2 linked regions of the Homo sapiens genome follow. The protein of the gene in region 1 interacts with the protein of each later gene in a pairwise test. Each region holds a gene or a part of one and is shown on either strand. Other genes may lie near its edges.

The links.
Region 2: the proteins of ENTREP1 (region 1) and ANKRD13D interact in binary tests that used the Homo sapiens proteins (3 or more experiments, as listed by UniProt).

The regions. Positions count from the first base shown.
Region 1 is NC_000009.12:69,321,320-69,328,483, forward strand, and holds the start of ENTREP1 (endosomal transmembrane epsin interactor 1), read left to right. Parts: upstream 1-3,895; 5' UTR 3,896-3,990; coding exon 3,991-4,404; intron 4,405-7,164. UniProt on the Homo sapiens protein: Functions as an activator of the E3 ubiquitin protein ligase ITCH in the ubiquitination of the CXCL12-activated CXCR4 receptor. Thereby, triggers CXCR4 endocytosis and desensitization, negatively regulating the CXCL12/CXCR4 signaling pathway.
Region 2 is NC_000011.10:67,299,147-67,303,117, forward strand, and holds the end of ANKRD13D (ankyrin repeat domain-containing protein 13D), read left to right. Parts: intron 1-383; coding exon 384-465; exon of another isoform or gene 466-475; intron 476-680; coding exon 681-742; intron 743-846; coding exon 847-977; intron 978-1,843; coding exon 1,844-2,001; intron 2,002-2,135; coding exon 2,136-2,252; intron 2,253-2,341; coding exon 2,342-2,505; intron 2,506-2,585; coding exon 2,586-2,677; intron 2,678-2,972; coding exon 2,973-3,186; 3' UTR 3,187-3,338; downstream 3,339-3,971. UniProt on the Homo sapiens protein: Ubiquitin-binding protein that specifically recognizes and binds 'Lys-63'-linked ubiquitin. Does not bind 'Lys-48'-linked ubiquitin.

The sequences.
Region 1 (7,164 bases):
CAGATGGGGGTCTTCTGAGAAGTGTGGAAGGAACTGAGGAGTTTATTTAAAGGGTCCTTGGGAGGCTGAGGTGGGCAGATCACGAGGTCAGGAGTTCGAGACCAGCCTGCCCAACATGGTGAAACCCTGTTGCTACTACAAATACAAATACAAAAATTAGCCGAGTGTGGTGGTGTGCACCTGTAATCCCAGCTATAAAGGAGGCTGAGGCAGAAGAATTGCTTGAGCCTGGGAGGCTGGGAGCCAGGCTCCTGGGAGCCTGGAGGTTGCGGTGAGCTGAGATCAAGTCACTGCACTCCAGCCTGGGCAAAAGAGAGAGACTCTGTCTCAAAAAAGAAAAAAAAAAGGTGTCCAAGAAACCTGGGCAAAGAGCCTGAACTCCTCAGTGGAGGAGGCTCCTAGTGCAAGGAGTGGAAAATGAGGGACAGGGAGGGGAAGCATTGGTAGAAGGTGTACGGAACCTTCTTGGAGTTGAGCTTTGATCTTGAGGAAAACTGGCAGCTGGGTTCCACCAAACAACACACTCCAGCTATTGTTTCCTTGAACTTTGGCCTACATTAATGAAGAATCTGGGGCAAATTTTTCACAGGTTCTTCCACACTTTATTTTTAAATTTTTTGATAACTTTATTGAGATATAATTCACATACCGTACATACAATTCACCCATTAAAGTGTACAATTCACTGGTTTTTAGTACATTCACAGAGTTGTACAATCATCAGTACAATCAATTTTAGAACATTTTCACCACCTTAAAAAGAACCCACATATCCTTTAGCCATCATCCCCTCGCAATCTCCCCATTTCCCCAGCCCTAAGCAGCCGGTAAGCTACTTTCTGTCTCTACAAATTTCTCTATTCTAGACAATTTAGATAAATGGAATCATATCATATGTGGTCATTTGTGACTGGCTTTTTTCACTTAGCATAATGTCTACAAAATTTTTAATTATTGTGGATACATAATAGTTGTACATATTATGGGGTACATATGATATTTTGAAACTTAGTATAATGTTTTTAAGGTTTCTACATGTAGCATAGATGAGCACCTCATTCCTTTTTACTGACAAATATACTCCACTGGCTGCATATTCCATGTTTTGTTAATCCGTTCATCCAGTTGATTGACACTTGGATTGCTTCCACCTTTTGGCTGTTGTGAATAATGCTGCTACTTGTGCACTGGTTTTTGTGTGAATATGTTCATTTCTTTTGGGTATATACCTAGGAGTGGAATAAGTGGGTCAAATGACAACAAACACTATACTTGACTTCCTGAGAAATTGCCAGACTGTTTTCAGAAGTCTTCAGTTTTTTTTTTTTTTTTTATTAAGACAAACGGAAATCAATGGCTCTGAATTATCCTATAAGAGCTTAGTTACATACAGGTTGTTCAGGTCTAACTAAAGACTTAATGTAAGCAGGGTTTGGGAGATGCAAAGAATCAAGCTTGGTTTACAAAAATACCAAGCCCAAATACTTGATATTTTTATTGGCATAATTTTAAAGGTTGGGGTAGTGTTACATGGATTTGTGTTTATAACCAGAAAAAGAAACTCAGTTATAAATGTGGCCAACAACAACAACAAATGACTGTACAACAACCCTTAATTAGTAGCTTTGGAAAAGTTTTAGTCACCTTATAAAATGAGTAAAGCCTTTAAGATGATAAAATCATCCACGGATTTCAGTTATTTTTGCTATCATCTGTTTCTGCATGGGGAAAAAGGCTTTAAAAATTTTAAGAATAAAGTATTTGGAAATACTTTACAGTATTTAAGTATATAATATACACAGAGATGCACACAAATCATAACTGTAACTCCATGAATTTTCACAAAATGAACCTTACTCATGTAATTAGTACCCACATCAAGAAAGAAATAGTCACCAGCACCCCTTGAAACCCTCTTTCCAGTCATAATCATGTCCCTCCTCAAGGACCAGTGGATATCCTGACTTCTAACAGCAACATTCTTAGACACAAATAATACATTTTTTGTAGTAAGTTTCAGGTGTCAAGAACTGGCCAATGAAATAGATTTGTTTAGCTGAGAGAATTTCTTAAGACTCAGTCAGACTTACTATATTGCATGGTGTAATACATTGTTAAAAATTAAATACTGTTAAGCTTGTATATAAAATAGAGTATAACCTCAGCCCCAAGAAGCTTTTCATTTAACATCAGCAGCAATTTAAGAGCATATACTGTATGGCATTTTTAAAAACTGCATGAAGCCGGGCGCGGTGGCTCACGCCTGTAATCCCAGCACTTTGGGAGGCCGAGGCGGGCGGATCACGAGGTCAAGAGATCCAGACCATCCTGGCCAACATGGTGAAACCCCGTCTCTATTAAAAAATATAAAAATTAGCTGGGTGTGGTGGCGGGCACCTGTAGTCCCAGCTACTCTGGAGGCTGAGGCAGGAGAATCGCTTGAACCCGGGAGGCGGAGGTTGCAGTGAGCCGAGATCACGCCATTGCACTCCAGCCTGGGCAACAGAGCGAGACACCATCTCAAACAAAACAAAACAAAACAAAAAACCCCTGCATGAATCAACAGACTTTAAACACTTATTTTGAAAGACATTTCCCTTTTCCTCCAGAATTTGAATTTATTCATGGGAGCAGTCTGTAAAGGAAGTCCTAGGCACCATTAAAGACAAGTGCTTTAATAATTTAAGAAGTGTGCATGTAAACTTGGGCACATTGACAGTATATTACATTGGGTTAAAGTGTAACGACCAATATAAATCCAGCTTCCACAAGCAGAGCATAAAAACTGACACATACTTTTCTTGGTTTATTGGGTAGGAGGATGTTAAATACCTTATGGTAAGATAAGCTTTCTAATACTGGAACTGACTAACTGCAAAGAACACTGCTCTGGTTCTTATCAGGAAAAAAAGTCCATTATAATCATTTTAGGCACGAAACTTTCTACGCATTAGAATTCTTCCGAGGTGAAAAGTATATTATTAAGGGAATTCATTTTGCAAAGAGGAATCTTTTTTTTTTTTTTTTTTTTTTTTTTGCTCTAAAGATTTTTCATAAATTACCAGAGTAGTTTAGGATTTTATTAGGATATTTCCTCGGAAGTTTGGGGGTTCCGTGTTCTATCAGGTGATGCCTAATAGATGCCTGATATAGCTCATAAGTCAATGAGAGGACAGAGCGTTACACTTGCCATGCACTCCGGGCTGCCCCGGGTACTTTCTTTACGGATGCTGGATGCTTCCAAGGTAACCCAGTCCTTTCATTCCCGCTCCTACCGAGATGCCGGGAAAGCACTCCCGCGCCGATGCGAGGTAGGCACGTCCTGCGCCCTGTGAGCGGTAACTGCGCTCGGCGTCGTCCTTCCCGAAGTCCTTGGCTTACACCTCTTCCCATCGAGTCGCCCCAAAGCCCCTCCTCCAGGCATCCCCCTCCTTGGGCAAAAGTTTAAGGGCGGGCCCCCTTCTCACTAAAGCGCGCCAGGGCCTCTCTCGTGGCTGGACAGAGAAGGCTCCTCGCTCTTCTCTAGCCCCAGCTCGGCGGGTGGGGACAGACGCTGAGACTCTCGGTGGCCGGCGCTGACGTGTCCTGGCCGTGAGGTGCCTCCCACCTCGAGGGACTTACTTAAATATTTGGGGCAGGGCACCCTCCCAGGACCCCAGGAAGCCGGCGCAGGTTCGGCGGGGACCCTGAGGCTGTGGCGCACTTGCCCCGGCACAGCGCGAGCACGGAGTGCGCGTGGGTGAGAGTGAGGGTGCGCCCAGGGCCAGCGGGAGGCGGACCCGCCAGGCGGCAGGTGGGTGCGGCCGGCTGGAGCCAGGGCAGCGGCAGCGGCGGCAGCAAGTGGTTGGGCCGTGCGCATTTCCTTCCCTCCCCCTCGGCCTCGGAGCCCGTCTGCAGTGCCCAGTGTGCTGCGCCTTCGGCTCGGCTCCGCTCCGCGTCCTCTGCCCGCCGCAGCCGGCCGCACCCGGCCGCACCCTTCCCCGTCCGTCCATGTCCCTGCCCGTGGTGCTCCCGGGCTCCTGCTGCCCCGTGGCTGGGCTTTCGGGTGGGCCGCAGGCCGGGGGCCCGGGCGCCGCTGCCGCCGCCGCTCAGGAGCCGCCGCTGCCCCCGCTGCGGCCGCGCTGGCCCCGGGGCGCGCTGCAGCCCCCGTCGCGGCCTCGCTGCGCGGCCACCGCTGCTGCCGGGGTGCTGGCCGCGCCGCCGGCGCTCTCCTCCCGCCGGGCAGTCGCCGCCGCTGCCGCCGCGGCCCCGGGCTCCGCGCTGCTGCCCGCCCGCCCGCTGCTGTCACTTGGGCTGCTTCAGCTGATCTTGGGCTGCTGCATGGTGGCGCTCAGCTTCGGGGCGCTGTCGCTGAGCAGCTCCCCGCAGGTGAAGAACTCGTGCCCGTTCTGGGCCGGCTCCTCGGTGAGTACCGCGCGCGCGCCCCGTTCGCCCGGTCATCCCGGTGATAGGGGGCTCTGGTCGTTCCTCTCCATTGCCCCTTTGTTGGCCTCCAGGGCTGCAGTTGGGGGAGCCTCACGCCACCTGAAGTTTTTGGAGGCTGGAGAAAAATGTTCCGCGACGGTCGAGTTCAGGGGTGAATTGGGTTGCACCTGGGTAGTGTCTGTTGCGCGCAGGCTGAAGAATTTTATTTTCCCTGTCAAGCTAATAGAATTAAAGACACCCAGCTCTTTGGGAGATTGGAAGGACAGGGTGTGGGTGGCAGGAAAGTGGGAGGAAAATGATTAAACTTCTTTTGGTTATTGAGTATTTGCTGCACTGACAACGTCTGTGCTGGGAGGGCAGGGATTTTGATCATTTTTGTTCACTGATGTATCAAGAATGCCTGGCACATAGTAGGTGTATTTGTGAGATGGGACAGTTTGACTGGGGCACATCGCTTGTTTTATTCTGCATTAAGACACACGTAAATGTGAAATGTGTAGGGTGGCTCGACCCCCAGACGAGTTCAGGAGGTAATGAGGGGGTGTGTGTGAACTGGCGCTTGTACCTGGTCATTAAAGGAAGGCCTTAACCCCACTGGGTTCCTGGAGCCATGCAGGCTGCTGTGCAGAATTCAGTTTGTGAGAACCGGGACCTGTCATTATGGATGAGCTGGCCAAAAGTCCTGGAGTGCCCAGCAGCTAGCTAGAGATGTCTGCTCTACAGGACCCACTCCTCCCTCCTCCAACCGGGAACGCTGAGCCTGGGGCCAAAGAGTGCCCAACTTCAGAGAAAAGCTGCTGCCAGCCAGTATCTATGGACACCGGGTGGCCACTCCCCCCTGCCTCCTAACAATCTCACAATTTCCAAGGCATCCAACCCCTTGACGTTTTCTGGGTGTTGAGAGACTTGGAAACACATCTTTGTGGAATGACTATGGAAGATGAGCACAGTAAATAACCTCTCTTTATATCTTTTTTTTTTAATTTTTAATTTTTATTTTTAAGGGACAGAGTTTCCCCATGTTGCCCAGGCTGGTTTCCAACTCCTGAGCTCAAGCGATCCTCCTGCCTCGGCCTCCCAAAGTGTGGGGATTAGAGGCATGAGCCACCACAGCCGACCGTAAATAACCTTTCTATGAACTCACTGTGTAAATCTGAAAGTCTAGCAATGCTGCTAGGTTTTAGTAAGATGTATAATCAGTGTATGTCCTGAATGGTAAGAACGGCTTTTGCAGTTTCACACATACTGCAATTCAAGACCAAATTGAAAAAAAAAAAAAAGGACTCGAAGAACTAATTGAACCCAAAGTAATTGTTTGAATAAGAACATTAAGAACGTTAGGTTCCTTGAGACTCGCCTGAAATTGTATACTTCATCCAGTGTCAGTTTGCTTTCCTTTTGAAATACTTTCATGTTGAATGAACTTATTGGGGTACGTGCTGGACTGTGGTGAGTGAAAGCCATGATTTGTGCCTCATGAAAAAACGCCACCCTGGTGGCTCTGCCTGTGGGCTCTGCCACTGGCCTCTATGAGTGTTCAGGAAAACTACAGAAGGATGGATATTCCAGACAAGGTAGGAATTAGACCCGTTATGCCACCTATTCTGTTTGTCTGACTAAGTCCAGCCAAATGGTGGGTGCATTTCATTTCTCTAAATACCACGGGCCAGTAATGATCTTGCATATATTTTTAGGAATTTGCTCTTTATAAAATCATAATCTATTGTCTTCTCAAACATAGCTAGTTTAGGATTCTTAAAAACTATTTTTTGTCTTCTAAAATTAAAAGCTGAAATCAGTTTACTATTGTGAATCATTTCAGAGGTAAATGCACTTAGATATCGGTCAAGCCACAGTTGAATTTGATGAAGTACCAAAAGAAAAGAAAAGAAAAAAAAAGGCCTTCCACCAGAAGGTGAAGGTTAATACTCCTGGTCTGCTGGCTGGGTATGTCCTTGTCTCCAGGTCTGGGCACACCAGAGGAGAGAAAGAAATCAGTGATTTGGAACTGACAAGTTCTCTGCTATATGTCTTTCCCCATTCTTCCCCATACTCTCCAAACACAGGTCTATATGCAACTCTATAACTGTTGGCTATTCCTACTTTTTGTGACTTGTTCCTGAGATTGACCTCAGAATTTGCAAAGTGACAACAGAAGCAGTAGATACTGTATTTATAGAACAATTAAATACAAATTTAAGAGGATGGCTTTAGGCACCATGACTCTCTTGGTGCTTTAGGGGAAAAAAGCCTTGTATCACATGTTTTGAATTTATGCATGTGACAGAGGTTGTTTTTTAAAAACCTCGTGTTATGGAAAAGTTTACATTTATGCAGTATACGATGAACCCACATATACCTTTCACCCAGCTTCAACAATGGTTTCATCTGCACCCCCTTCCTGGGCTCTGCTGCTGGCCTTGTGTCTTCTGATAAACTTCAGAAGGATGAATATTCCAAGCAGGGTGGGAATTAGATCCTTCGTGCTCCCTAGTCCATTTGTGAGATTAAATTCTCTTATTGTTTGGAAGCAAATCTCAGGTGTCACATTTCATCTGTATATATTCCAATGTGTGTATTTTTATCACAAGAAAATATAACCAGCATAGGATTGAGTGGGCAGTCCGAAGAACCATTCCCTTCAATTTTAAATCTTTTATTATAAAAATTTAAAAACTCAACAAATGTAGAAAGAAGGGTGTAATGATCCCGCATTTTACCCTTCACCCAGTAGCTATC
Region 2 (3,971 bases), on another chromosome or scaffold:
GGCTGGGGGTAGGAGATGAGGTCCAGGAACTCAGCTCCTCTCCACATCCATCCCAGAGTAGCCCCTGGGCTCTGGAAACCCTGAGCATTTGTGGGAACTCAGCGGGCCTGAGTGCCCAGCCCCTGCGGAGTACACAGGGCTCACCCACATCATGGGCCCCTACCCAGGGTACCGAGATCAAAAGAGGAGTGTGTTCCTCTTGACCCTGGGGCTGCATCTCCTCGTTGGTGACTTCCTGGGGTTCAGACCCTGCCACCTCCTCCATTTTGGGGAGCAAGATCTCATCTGTCTCTGGGACAGGAGGACCTGGGTTCTGCACTGGTGAGGCTGAGTGTGGGGAGCAGGCTCTGAGCCCCCAGCTCCCCGTGTCCCCTGCTCCCCAGGTGTACAGTGCCACCAACGTGGAGCTGGTGACACGCACACGCACGGAGCACCTCTCTGATCAGGACAAGTCGAGGAGCAAAGGTAAACCCAGGTGCGCCTGCCTGCTGCCCGGTCACACCGTGTGGTGGGGTCACCCTGGCCTGGGATTAGGGGCCAGAGTTTCCCAGGATGAGCTGGGAGGCCTCCCCATTCCCGTCTGACCCCTCTTCCCCCAGACAGTAGGCTCCAGGGGTGGAGGTGGGCAGGGGCGATGCGAGCATTGTGACCCCTTACCAGCTCCCACCCCTTCTCCGTAGCGGGGAAGACTCCATTCCAGTCCTTCCTGGGGATGGCGCAGCAGCATTCCTCCCACACCGGGGTGAGCCGGGGCTGGGCCGAGACAGGGCTGGCGGGGGGCCGAGCCTGGGCGGGAGGGCACCCTCTGTCACCTTGATGGCTGAGTCCGCCCTGGGACCCACGCAGGCCCCCGTGCAGCAGGCAGCCAGCCCCACCAACCCCACAGCCATCTCCCCTGAGGAGTACTTCGACCCCAACTTCAGCCTGGAGTCACGGAACATTGGCCGCCCCATCGAGATGTCCAGCAAAGTACAGAGGTGAGGTCTGAGAGCTGGCTGGGGACTTGCCTCGGGACAAGGGCTCTTGCAGACCCCTCTCTGGGCCTGTCATAGTTAGGGACCCACTCCCTCGGCTGGCTTCTCTCTGGACTCCACTCCTGGAGGGCAGGAGTCATGTCTGCCTTATCCATGGTCCTCAGCCCTTAGCAAGGGGCTTGGCACAGAAAACCGGTAGTTTGTCTTTGATGAATGGATGGTGCCACCCATGTATGGTTTTCTATTGAATTTCATGAGTACCTGCTGGGGCCAGCGTGGCACAGTGGGAAGGGCCCCCAGCGACGTGGCCTGGGAGTGGAGCGTCTGCCTTGGTGGAACAGAACAGTTACGCTCTTGCCTCGTGAGGAGCCTTGAGCAGGTATAGGCGGTAACAGCAGGCACAGTGCCTGCACAAGCCTAGCGCTCTCCCCACCATCTCAGGAGGATTCTCTTAGCCACCCAACAGTCGCTGGGATTCGAACCCTGGCAGTCTTGCCCTGGGGTGTGCTGGACATAAAAGTTTGGCAACACGTGAGCTGGTGACCAGCTCTGGGCTGAGGAGGAAAACGGGGCTGTGGGCCAGGCCCAGAGAGAAGCCCACAGCCTGGCACCTGGCCTCCTTGTCCAGACCAGATGAGCTGGTACGAAATCCTCAGGAGCCCCAGCCTGGGCCCAGGGAGGAGGGCAGCTTGGGCCACGTGGCCAGGACACCAGCTCCCGGGGGAGGCGGGCAGCGGCATCTGAGCAGAGCAGGGCACTCCAGGCCAGGCAGAAGGTGGGTAAAGGCAGCTGCCCACGAACCAGAGGGCAGTCCTCAATGGAAGGGCCACCAGCCGTGCCTCACCCATGTCCTGTGGTCGGCTGGGCAGGTTCAAGGCAACACTGTGGCTGAGTGAAGAGCACCCGCTCTCCCTGGGTGACCAGGTGACCCCCATCATCGACCTAATGGCCATCAGCAACGCTCACTTTGCCAAGCTGCGCGACTTCATCACTCTGCGCCTTCCACCTGGCTTCCCCGTCAAAATTGGTGAGAGGCTGGGCACAGGCAGCGGGAGGACCTCAGGCATGGCACCCTCCCTCAGCGCAGTCCCTGGAGAGCTGCAGGGGCCGGAGGCACAGGTGGCTCTCCGCCAGGGCTCAGGCGTGGCTGTCTTCTCACAGAGATTCCCCTTTTCCACGTGCTCAATGCCCGCATCACCTTCAGCAACCTGTGTGGCTGTGATGAGCCCCTGAGCTCCGTGTGGGTGCCGGCCCCCAGCTCTGCTGTTGCCGCATCAGGTACCCCAACGGGAGGAAGAGGGAGCCTGCACAGCTTTCTGGTCACCAAGCCCCGCGGGTTGAGCGTGGCCCCTCTGCCACCTGCCTAGGGAACCCTTTCCCGTGCGAGGTGGACCCCACCGTGTTTGAAGTGCCCAACGGGTACAGCGTGCTGGGCATGGAGCGCAACGAGCCCCTCCGGGACGAGGACGATGACCTCCTGCAGTTCGCCATCCAGCAGAGCCTGCTTGAAGCGGGCACTGAGGCGGAGCAGGTGGGACTTGCCCAGGGGGTGGGCTCTGGCCTCTGCAGCCACACGGCAGAAGTGACAGCTGTGGGCTCTGGTGGCTGCAGGTGACCGTCTGGGAAGCCCTGACCAACACCCGGCCCGGTGCCCGCCCTCCTCCCCAGGCCACGGTTTATGAGGAACAGCTTCAGCTGGAGCGGTGAGCCCCTCATGGGGCTGGCTGGGTCCCTGTCCCCCCAGCCCTGGCTTGGCGGGGAGGGGGATAGCAGGAAGGTGCTAGGACCCCAGGCCCTCTGCAAGGCCACCCTCTGTCAGCAGCGCTATCTGCCACCAAAGGTGGTGTGAGGGGTGGGGAAGCAGGGCCCTGCCTTGTCTCCTCTGCTTGCCACCCTGTCTTTGCCTTTGTCCTCCAAAGCCGGTCCCCAGCCCCTCGGCTTCTGCCCCAGCCTTGGCGCTCACTGGCCTGTTCTTCCCTCCCCTGCCCTGCCTGGAAGGGCCCTCCAGGAAAGCCTGCAGCTGTCCACAGAGCCCAGGGGCCCAGGATCCCCTCCCAGGACACCCCCAGCCCCCGGTCCACCCAGCTTTGAAGAGCAGCTGCGCCTGGCCCTGGAGTTGTCTTCACGGGAGCAGGAGGAGCGGGAGCGGCGCGGGCAGCAGGAGGAGGAGGACTTACAGCGGATCCTGCAGCTGTCACTCACTGAGCACTGAGCCATAGCCCCGGGAGGGCTGGCCAGGCCACTCCCTGCCCGCTTTTGTAATTTATTTATTTATAAACTCTCTGCTGCTGAGCTTGGGGCCTGGAGCCCCAGGAATGAGCAGGCAGGGGAGACTGAGATGGAAATAAAGAGACTGTCGCAGCAGGGCTGCTCTGCTCACTGGGCTGGAGCGGTGGGGACCCTGAAGGTGGGGCGCTGTGGAGAGGCACTGTGGATGGCGGCCTCAGACCTGGGCTTGAATCCTGGTCATGGTCCCCTTAGCCTATCTGAGCCTCAGTTTCTTCAGTTGTAAAATGAGGAGACCACCCCCCACCCTCCGCCCCTCAGGGCTGAAAGGAGCTGGCGAGAGTCACGTGTCCTTACCAAGCAGGCGTCCTGTGAAAGTCAGATCCCCTGTGCCCTGTCCCACCTGCTGGGGACCCGGTTCGTCCTGCCACCCAGCCTAGTCTTCTGGAAACCGGCCCACGTGCCTGCTGGGGAGGAAAAGCCTGGGTCCCCAGGCACCATTCACCTCCAGCTGGGAAGAGCCCCGACGCCGACCCCTGCAGCCAAGCCCAGGCCCTGGCCCTGACTGCGGCTTGTTCTCTGCGGGTGGGTTTGCGCAAGTCACTTCCGCCTGCGTAGCTGGAAGCCCTGCCCTGCTCGCCTCCGAGGTGGACCTGAGAGCCCCTCATGGGCTTCCTGGGTTATTTGTAAACCCCAGGCCGTTTTCCCCGGAAGCCTGTCTTCCAGTGGTTCCTGCGGAGTGGGAACGAGAAGGCCGACCAGCAGGGAGAA